2 separate regions of the Homo sapiens genome follow, and region 2 is linked to region 1. The links come from fine-mapping of genetic effects on gene expression. A gene starts in region 1. The other region holds a variant in brackets. All regions are shown on one strand. Distances are from middle to middle. Region 1 holds the start of CACYBP (calcyclin binding protein). Region 2 overlaps RABGAP1L (RAB GTPase activating protein 1 like).

Evidence for each region. PIP is the estimated chance that this variant, and not a neighbour inherited with it, causes the effect.
Region 2: its variant is the best candidate, but not a certain one, in a credible set for the expression of CACYBP in whole blood (INTERVAL, PIP 0.50).

The regions. Positions count from the first base shown.
Region 1 is chr1:174,996,601-175,001,982 of GRCh38, reverse strand. It overlaps CACYBP (calcyclin binding protein), which reads right to left and starts at 2,036. Exons shown (of 6, transcript NM_014412.3): 1 at 1,788-2,036. The coding sequence starts at 1,802. It overlaps LOC105371622 (a long non-coding RNA gene), which reads left to right and starts at 2,337. Exons shown (of 2, transcript NR_188647.1): 1 at 2,337-2,388; 2 at 4,250-4,504. It also overlaps the pseudogene RNU6-307P. RefSeq lists a silencer at 2,016-2,135 and enhancers at 2,166-2,675, 2,227-2,763, 2,706-2,915.
Region 2 is chr1:174,819,024-174,824,405 of GRCh38, reverse strand. The region is part of intron 19 of RABGAP1L (RAB GTPase activating protein 1 like); the gene reads right to left. Among named protein-coding and RNA genes, the nearest start is that of RABGAP1L-AS1, 130 kb to the left of the region's middle. The variant G/A (reference allele first, on the strand shown) is at 2,141.

The DNA.
Region 1 (5,382 bases):
ATCACTTGAGATCAGGAGTTCGAGACCAGCCTGGCCAACGTGGTGAAACCCCGTCGCTACTAAAAATACAAAAATTAGCCGGGCATGGTGGCGCGCGCCTGTAATCCCAGCTTCTCAGGAGGCTAAGGCAGGAGAATCCTTTGAACCCGGGAGACGGAGATTGCAGTGAGCCGAGATTGCGCCATTGCACTCCAGCCTGGGCGACAGAGCGAGACTCCGTCTCAAACAAAGAAGTGGAAATAAATGTCCATAAACGGATGAAAGGATAAACACAATGTGCCACATGCATATAATAGAATATTATTTAGCCATAAAGAGCATGTGTACTGATACACGCTACACCATGGATGAACTTGAAAATGTTAGTGCTAAGTTGAAGGAGCCAAAAAACAAAAGGCCACATACAGCGTGACTCCATTTATATGAAATGCCTACAATAGGCAAATTCACAGAAAGTACAAGATGAGTAGTTGTCAGGGGCTGAGGGAGGAATGGGAAGCAATTGTTTAAAACACACTACATGGTTTCTTTCTGGAGTGATGAAAATGTCCTGAAACTAGACAGTGGTGATGGCTGCACTACACTGTGAATATATTTAAACAAAAAACAAATACCTGAATTGTACACTTTAAAATGGTTAAAAACTTGAATTTTATCTCAAACAAAACAAAAATCAAGTGCCCTCAAATGTATATTTCTAAGTGCCTAAACTGAGAACGATCTCTACTTTCAAGAGGACTAACACTGAGCTATCCACCTGCAAGACTGTGAAGTTATCTCCTAGGGGCACATAGTACCCAAGACCTACCTTAAAAGACTTGTCACAAGATACCCAGATTAATACTGGAACACACAAACCTCATAGTTTTTCTTCATTTAAAGAAAAGATTTTGAGTTTAAAAAACAAAAACAAAACAAAACAAAAGCTTGGGACTCCCCAGTACTTGTTTTCATAAAGCAAATCTAGTTAATACACACCCAACACTTAACTGTGAATAACTGTCCCGTCTTCACCTCCCACTTACGCCAGGAAATGAGCAATACAAGTACTATCATTCCCATTTTCTAACTGAGCAAACTAAGTCTCCACAAAATTTAATTCTCCAACGTTCAGAGTTTACAGAGCTTTAACACAGGCCATTCGCTTTCTTACTATTAATTACAACTAACTTTCCAAGTTATTTATTTTAAAAATCACATACAGCAGATTGCTGTTTGCCAATCACTGACTTAAACACCTAGAAATCATATTTTTTAACAACCCTATGAAATGGATGCTACTGCGACACAGAGAAGCTAAACAACTTGCCCAGAGTAACACAGCTCCTCGTGTGTAGAGAAAACCTGACTAGGAGAATTCAAGTGCTAGCACTGAGAACTCACCTTCCAACCGCCCTCTACCAAGAACGACACTCATGTTTGCACCCAGCTTTGCTTGAATGAAGCTTCCTGTCCACTGGCTGGGAAACCAGGGCAGAAAGGGCCTGAGGAACACGCGCAAAGGGCCGCTCTCCCAGACCCACTCCCCGCACCGCCTGCACGGATAATCGCCGCACACCCCCGCTCGAGCCCAGCAGGCGAGTGGGGTGCGAGGTCGAGTGGAAGCGCTGGGGAGCCGACGGCGCAGCAAGGGGCGAGTGAGGTGTCCCCCGGGAAGGCGGCGCACTGACTGGCGCGGGACCGGGTGGCCGCAGGGCGGCTCAGCCCACGGAAACGGCGGTAGGGCGGGAGGCTGGCGCTGCAGCTCCAGCCGGGGGGCATAAGGAATATGGGGCCGGACCACTTACCTCTTCTGAAGCCATGGGGGCTGGGTCAGGCCGAAGTCCCGAGCTGCAGCCGCGCAGAAGGAGGAACAGGAAACCCCGCGCCGAGCCCTCAAACCGAGCGCAGACGCCTACCCGCACGAGTCGCGGCGCTGCAGCCTGCGCCCACACCGACCCTGCGCAAGATCGCGGCCCGCCTCCCGCACGCGACGGATCTCGAACCTTCGCGAGGCAGCCGCCGCCACCGCCCACCGCGAGCACGCACAGCCCGCCAAGCCTGGCTCCACCCACCCTTCCTCGCCTCGCCGAGCCTAGCCCCACCCCTCCCCGCCCCGCCGAGTCTGGCTCCGCCCGCCTGCCGAATCTCCTAGCAACGCTCAAGTCTCGCGAGCGAACCGGCAATCCGAGAAGAGTAATGTCTTGCTCTCCGCCCTGACAACTTTTATGTATTATAATTTGACCGCGCTGGGCCACGCTGCGCAGTCGCAGCTCGGAACCGCTGCGTTAACCCAGCCCCGGAAATAACGTACCGATCTTCGGAGTCCAAGTCGGAAGTTGACTAGAGAGTCACCTGCTTTCGTCCGCTCTAGGACACCAGACACACCAGGCCGCCATGTTGTGTAAGGTTAGTCTCTCAGCCTCCGCGAGAAGAAGGCGAAAAATGGGGAGGAGCAGCCTGGTTACTTTCAAACGAGAAAGAACGGATATGTTAAGCGTGGAGGGCTCCTAATGGTAGCGGTTTGATTTTCAGTGAGTTTGGCGCGGTGGAGACGTCACCGCGGTCTAACAGTTCCGACGTGGTGGCGTCATCACTGGCCGCCGTAGGAGGTGGAGCTACGTTGGCCTCGTGACCGGGCCCTGTAGCGGAAGCCCAGGTCAAGGCCCTAACAAAAGGGCCCGCCTATGGCCACAGTTTCAGGCCCTCCTTTCAGTCATGGACTGTTGAAGCACGATTTCCTGGTGCTTTCGCCCCTTTCACCGACCATTTCAAGAGTCCGTAGTTCTCGCCTGGGTTTGGATTCGGTATAAGTGAGCCTGTTTACCATCAAAGAAAATGGTGAAATGTCTTCTGGAGACGATGTTCTCTTCTGGTTCTAACCCTGTCACTCAGTGAGACCCCCAGAGAAGCCTAGTTTTCAGATTATTCTAGTCCTTGGCAGGCTCAAGATGTCAACAACACGGTTGGAAACAACCCCTGAGAGGTCACATAGCGCGCACTCAGCTTTACAGATCGTCCAAGGCAGCGACCCCTGAGAGGTCACATAGCGCGCACTCAGCTTTATAGATCGTCCAAGGCAGCAATTAGAATCAGCAACTCGGAGAGGAAAAAAAGCTGTTAGCGGAATGGAGGCTGACCATTATCTGTAGTAAAGAATCGGAAGTACAGTACAAAAATAAATTACCGAAACGCAACATGCGTGAATTTCACACAAAAAAATGAAGTTGAGGGAAAGAAGCCAGACATGGAAGAGTTCATATTGCGTGGTTCCATTTAAAAACTAGCCCATGGTGTTAATGAGCATAGTGGGGAGGACAATGACATGAAAGAGCCACCAGGGGGCTTTTGAGGTTCAGGTAATGTTTCTTGATTTGGACACTGATTATAGATAGGTGGGTTCACTTTAGAAATCTCATTGAGTTGTAAACGTATATTTATGTACGTAGTTTTTTCTGTAGATTATGCTTAAGGCCCGGCGAAGGGGAATTTGCCCAGGTAATGGAAATATTACACCGATACATAGAATTGTCAAAGTTCATGGGATGAACTCCTAAGAGCTGTGTATTTTATCGTATAAATTTTTTTAAGTGTCCAACCAATAGCCTGGAATTATTAAGTACATAATTAAATAAAAACAAATATCCCATGGACCTAATGCAGTGAACAGTTACCTCGTTCTCTTAATTGCTCAGGCTAAGGACTCATACCTGAGTCTTCTATCTCAGGCCTTACATCTTATATAACAAGCCTTACTGGCTTAATCTTCAAAATATGTAGCGAATTTAACGAGTTCTCACAACCTCTGCTTCTACCACCTGACGGGGTTTGGGACATGCTACCCAAAAATATGGCACCTAGACATATTGAATACTTTGAACTGAAGGAATTTGAGAAAGAACATATGCAGGAATGTCTCTAACTTTCTTGCACCTTTCTGCTCTGAAGCAGGACGTAATACCCTCATGTGAGAATTGCCCTGTCTATACCTGGAATAAAAGTAACATCTTTATCTCTGAAAACACAGGGACGTAGAGACGAATATGAACATCAGGCCTTGCTAAGTTTCCCCCAGTTTATTACCCTTAGATCACAGTCTTTTAGCCCCATCACATTTTCCCACAATTCTCCATTCTTCTTCAAACCTACTCTAAACAACACTAAGGTTAACTATTTATTCGGGTCTTCATTTCTTTATGAAGTTTCCATGTTATGTAAAACTAACATTAATATTTATGCTTTTCTCTTGTTAATTTGTCTTTTGTTACAGGATCCCCAGCCAGTGAGCCTAAAATGGGTAGAAGGAAAAGATATTTCTTACCCTACGCACCCAGGTCCAAGTCATCATTATTTTGTCTGAAATTTATCTTCCTAACTGATTTCTCTGCTTCCCCATTGTGCCTTAAGAGTTAGTTTTCCACAGAGCAGCTCGAGATATCTTTTCAGATCATTATATCCCTTTGCTTAAAAACCTCTAACAGCTTCCTATTAGGCTTAGAATAAAGTACAAACTCCTTAATGTGAACTTGAGTGTTTTACGTATCTTATCTCACCTTTATGAGCTTCATGTCAGAACCCATCTCTCACCACTCTTCCTTCCCCGCTCCCTGATTTAAACAGTCTGGCACTTTACTTATTCATTGAACCCACTGGGTTTGCTCTTGCCTCCAAGTCTGTACCCAGCTTTCTCTCTACCTGTAATCCTCTTCCTCTAGGTCATCACACAGATCGTTTCTTCACTCTATTTAGGTCTTTCAGAAGTAACACTAAGGGAGGCTTTTCCAGACAATATTATGCAAATATAAATGGACATGTGACAAATACTTTATTCGACTTATTAGTTACTGAGAGTGTATTTGAGTAGCCAGGTATTTATAGGCAATTTAACAATGTAATGTTAGTATAAGGTGGCAAGGTTAGATATAAACCTGTTAATGTCTCACAGGGTAATAAACTATAACTTTTGGTGTTATCTGTTCCACTGGAAAGGAAGTAGGGATTTGCATTCTTACTGGACAAAAATCTACAAGTTAATGTATAGATTCAGTATAGGACTTTTAAATCAATAGTGAACGATGAAATGAACAAAGTACAATCCCCTAGTCCTTGGTTTGACACTGAAAGGACATGCCACTCACCTTTTTGCCTTGTTTCCAAAGTTTGGAATAATTTTCCTTTCAAAATGAAATTATTTCTCATTCAGTTGTCCTATTGCAGGCAGCCTTTACTGCTTCCCCCAGTTAATGTACCTGTCAAGCTTACTCATGATTTCCTAACTGCCAAATTCAATGGATATTTTTAATTTTTTTTTTGCTATGACTCATACTGTTCCCTTCGGGCTTGTCAGCAGATAAATGACCTTCTGGGGACTGTGCAAAATATGGAATGCTTAATGAATTTGTG
Region 2 (5,382 bases), 180 kb after region 1:
CTCCTGCCTCAGCCTCCCAAGTAGCTGGGACTATAGGCGTGTGTCACCATGCCCAGCTAATTTTTGTACTAATATATATATAGATATGTATATATCTATATCTATATATTTTTTTTGAGATGGAGTTTTACTCTTTCGCCCAGGCTGGAGGGAAGTGGAGCGAACTCAGCTCACTGCAACCTCTGCCTTCCTGGTTCAAGAGACTCTCTTGCCCCAGCCTCCCTAGTAGCTGGGATTACAGGCACGTGTCACCACACCTGGCTAAGTTTTGTATTTTTAGTAGAGACGGGGTTTCACCCTGTTGGCCAAGCTGGTCTCGAACTCCTGACCTTAGGTGATCCACCCACCTTGGCTTCCCGAAGTGCTATGATTACAGGTGTGAGCCACTGCGCCTGGCCTAAATTTTGTATTTTTAGTAGAGACAGGATTTCACCATGTTGGTAAAGCTGGTTTCAAATTCCTGACCTCAAGTGATCGGCAAAGTATCCCAAAGTATTGGGAGGCAAAGGCAAGTATTACAGGCATGAGCCACTTACCCAGCCAATTTCTAATTTATTTTTACTGATACATAATAATTGTACATATTTATGGAGAACATGCGATATTTTGCTCCCTGAATGCTATGTGTAATGATTACATCAGAGTACTAGGATATCGATCACCTCAAACATGTGTCAATTCTTTTTGTTGGGAACCTTTTGAATCTTCTATTTTGAAGTACACAATAAATTATTAACTATAGTCACCCTGATGTGCTACTGAATACTATAACTTATTCCTTCTATCAAAGTGTATGCTTGTGTGCTCATTAACCAACCTCTCTTCATTTATTTTTATTGTTGCCTAACATAATGAAATTATTTCCAGTGAGAAGCAACAAGGGTTCAGAGGAATGTTTTCTTTTCTTCTGTAAATCGGATCCCCAAATACAAATCATGAAGCACACTTTAAACATAATGTTAATATGAATTCAAGTGATAATAAATAAATAAAATAATTCAAAGAAATGTAGAATCACGGTAAATGGTTGCGGGAAAATTATTGATTACTGCTGTTCCCAATAGTGAAGACAAGTTCTAACGTTATGGCAACTCTGATAGATATAAATCACAACTACTGGATAAAAGGTAATTGGCAAAACACTTCAGAAAGGTAAACAAAATATGGAAACTCTTATTTAAGAGCATAATCATTAGGTTTTGATCCATTATAAGACTGCTGGGCGTGAATTAGGTGCAGGGAAAAAAAGAAAACTTAAAGTTTTTGAAGAAAAATAAACTACTAGGTGAGATAGCAATTCTGATGTTCTTTTTGTTGTTAATTATGCATGGAATGCACATAGTTCCAATTTTGGAACGTCTATAAAGGCATAATGCTCTATTCCTATGGTTTACTATTTGTTTTTCTAAGAAAAGAGTTGCCCAAATATAAATCAATTTTTATATCCATTAGTTTACCCATCAGGTTAATTTTAAAATGTATGTATGGCTTTCTTTTTAATGAACTGCCAGAAAATGACTGGCAGAAGTAGGTACAGGGTAGAAACAAAATGGCAGAAGCAAATAAAGAAGACAAATGTGTTCTAGCTCAGGGGTCCCTACCACCAGGCAGCGGACCAGTACCGGTCATTAGGAACCGGGCCACACAGAAAGAGGTGCCTCGTGGGAGAGCAAGCATTATGGCCTGAGCTCTGCCTCCTGTCTGATCAGCAGTAGCATTAGATTTTCATAGGAGCGTGAACCCTATTGTGAACTGCACATGCAAGGGATCTAGACTGCTCTGTCTATGAGAATCTAATGCCCTCCCCCTCCACCATGGAAAAATTGTCTTCCATGAAAATGATCCCTGGTAGGAGACCACTGTTCTAGCTGATTAGGAAGGGCCACAAAAGCTGAGTTTTTTAAATGTGGAAGGTGCCTGATGCCTAAGCATCTGGAGCTCTGACCTGTTTCCTCTGCCTGTTATCAACTGTTTCAGAACATGTCCAACATTAACATGTTCCCTGCTCACTGGGAATAAAACAAAACAATACCCCAATCTAAGGTGCACTGAAGACTATGAGTGTTAATAGAAGTCTCAAAGGCAAACAGTGGCAAATGCTTTGATATAGAAACTACTTCATTATCAATTTTTTTTGTTT[G/A]TTTGAGACACAGTCTTGTTCCATTGCCCAGGCTTGCAGTGCAGCGGTGCAATCTCCGCTCACCACAACTTCCGCCTCCCAGGTTCAAGTGATTCTCCTGCCTCAGCCTCTCGAGTAGCTGGGACTACAGGCGTGCGCCACCATGCCCGGCTAATTTTTGTATTTTTAGTAGAGACAGGGTTTCACTGTGTTGGCCAGGTTGGTCTCCAACTCCTGACCTCGTGATCCACCCGCCTCGGCCTCCCAAAGGGCTGGGATTACAGGCGTGAGCCACCGCACCCAGCTTTATTATCAATGTGTTAATTATCACATCTGTATCCTATAACATGATAACATTTCTCCAGCAGAAGATTATGACACTAAACCTAACAACTCAAATGTGGTTGTCAACATATAGAGGTCTTTATAGAAAAGGAACACAAGATGTGTTTTAATCAAAAGTGAATCTTTTCAATGGTGTACATAAAAGCACACATTTTAGATCCATGAAGTTGACAAAAACTTCTGTAGGACCTCAGTGCTAATTCAAAGAAAGCCTCTATTTCAGAGAGTACATTCTTGTTCACGTACAGCAACAACAGCCAGGAATAAATAGCAAACAGCATGAAGAAATTAGAGGTAAATTGCTTTTAATGCAATTGTTCTTTACAGTTTTGCTCTACTGTGAAAGTTATTTTCAAAAACATTCAAATCCAGTTATGAATATGGAGGTCTTCGGAGAAAAAAAATTAAATTCTAGATAAAGGAATCTACCACTGTCTCATTAAAAACATGATTTGTGAGGGGTAAGATCAAATTGTATTTGCAACTTTGGGAGAGTAGAAAATAGTCCAGCACAATATATAGGTAATTGAGCTGGAGCAGAGCTTAGAATTTTCTGAGGCAAGTAGGTGATAAGTAACATCTTATCATTGGTAGCTACCTCTTTAGCACGGGGTAGGAAGACAATTTTGGTGTGTGAGAAGATGCTGGGTCAGGATTCTGTTTTTAACCATGAGTGCCCTTCCTCATTCCCTCATTCCCGCTACCTGCACTGCCTCTGCCATCTTTGTCTATTCCTCCCACAATGCATTTCCAACTCTTAATCATGTGATCAGAGTAAAATGGTAGTGATGGTGGCAGAATTATTAGGACAAAGAGAAGTAAATCATAGGAGGTGGCCATGAATGCCAAAATAGTAATTGGCATGGTTTTGCTGCGATCACTGGAAATTATGAGCACAGGGCAGTTTTTTTTTTTTTTTCTTTTTGAGATGGAGTCTCACTCTGTCGCCCAGGCTGGAGTGCAGTGGTGCAATGTCAGTTCACTGCAACCTCCACCTCCCGGACTCCAGCAATTCCCACGCCTCAGCCTCCTGAGTAGCTAGGATTATAGGCACGTGCCACCATGCCTAGGGAAATTTTTGTATTTTAGTAGATACGGGTTTTCACCATGTTGGCCAGGCTCATCTTGAAGCCCTGAGCTCAGGCGATCTGCCCGCCTCAGCCTCCCAAGGTGCTAAGATTACAGGGGCGAGCCCAGGGCAATATTACTTTCTAGTATCAGAAAGTTCTCTTTAAAATATATGAATTTTTGAGAAAAAGATGCTTTTTATCTTGGGTAACCCCCAATAAGGGAATTAATCTCCTCTTCCGCCATTCTTCCTGAGTCCAATAATTCTTTGTTCCCTTCTCCCAGGCCCTTTTCTTGTAGTCTTTCAGTCCCATCTATCTTCACTCTCTTTTCTATTAATTAGACTCCATTTCCCATCATGTCAACCACTCTCCTGCTATTAGCCTCATCTCCTCAACCCTGTGGTGTACCAGTGTCAGAAACTACCAGCTCAAAAGTGGCTCTTAATATTCAGAAATTGAGTGGGGCGGTTAAGTCATTGGTAGCTTGAAATTTGGCCATGGTGGGAGTATTCATACCATGGAAATGGGCAAACGCTACAAATCAGGGATACCTCTTTCTCTACTCCCTCTTACTCCCCAACCCAATATACAGTTTATTAGCACAACTGCCCTGGCCCCATGTCCTTCCTTTGCCTCATATTGGCAAACCTCAACTGTGGTTAAAATAACCTTCTGTCTTCTTCATATATACATTTGGACTACTAAATGTTTCTAAAGAAAATTACAAAACACTGTAGATTTTTGCCACTATGAACTCATAGTCTACAACAATATAGACTAGCTGTTCTTTTGAGTTTTTCCAGTCTAAAAGCTCTTCCATGTTTCTCAAAGCTGTCACTTTACTGCATTCCCTTCATCCTAGATCCTGTTTAACAGAAACAATAGAAAACTTCAAATGAAATATCCTCAATTTCTTCCTCACCAAACTACACATTCACCATTTTCCCCATCCTTCCCTTGCCTATTCCCTCCAGCTTGTAATGAAAGGTCCATTCTTTTGAGGTTAATCCCTTACCTCCTCAGAGTCCTTTTCCTGTTAATATATTTCCCTTTCTTTATTTAATCTTTAACTTTTCTCTTTCTGTGGGCTTTTCCTTCTTATTGGTAGATGAAGTGGTTTGGTCCCTGGATATCAACTGTCATCATTCTCTGAAGTACAGTCAAACTGGCCTTCTCCTAGTTTCTACAACTTACTATATTCTCTCCCTCTTCACAGGCTTTGCATATGCTGCTTTTCAGTCTGGAATACCTTGTAATCTCAGTTCAAGAATGCTTTCTCTAGATCATTGAGTCAAGGTCAGGTTCCTTTGCTCTTTGCTCTCATATATCTTTATTATATCTCTTCTGAACATTTATCTCACTCTGTAAGTATACATTTATTAAGGTGATTAAATTAACACTGTGAATTCCATGAGCTCTGAGAGCATATGTGCTTTTGCTCAATCTCATATTCCCTGGGTCTATCTGGTACAATGCCTGGCATATAGTAGGTGCTCAAAGAAGAAATTAAGAGTCATTGGAAATTTTTTTAGCATTAAAGACTCATCTTTCCCATCCTCCAAAAATCCATCTTAGTCTCAACATCCTCTTATCTCTCTCTCTTGTACTTACTCATCTCTCTCTCTCCCATACTTACTCTCAGGCTTGCTGACTATCTCTTTTTTTTTTTTTTTTTTTTTTTTTTAGAGACAGGCAGAGTCTTGCTCTGTCACCTGGGCTGGAATGCAATGACACAGTCATAGCTCACTGCAGCCTCCAACTCCTGGGCTCAAGCCAACCTTCCACTTCAGCCAATCAAGTAGCTAGGACTCCCGGCATGTGCCACCATGCCCAGATAATTTTTGGAGT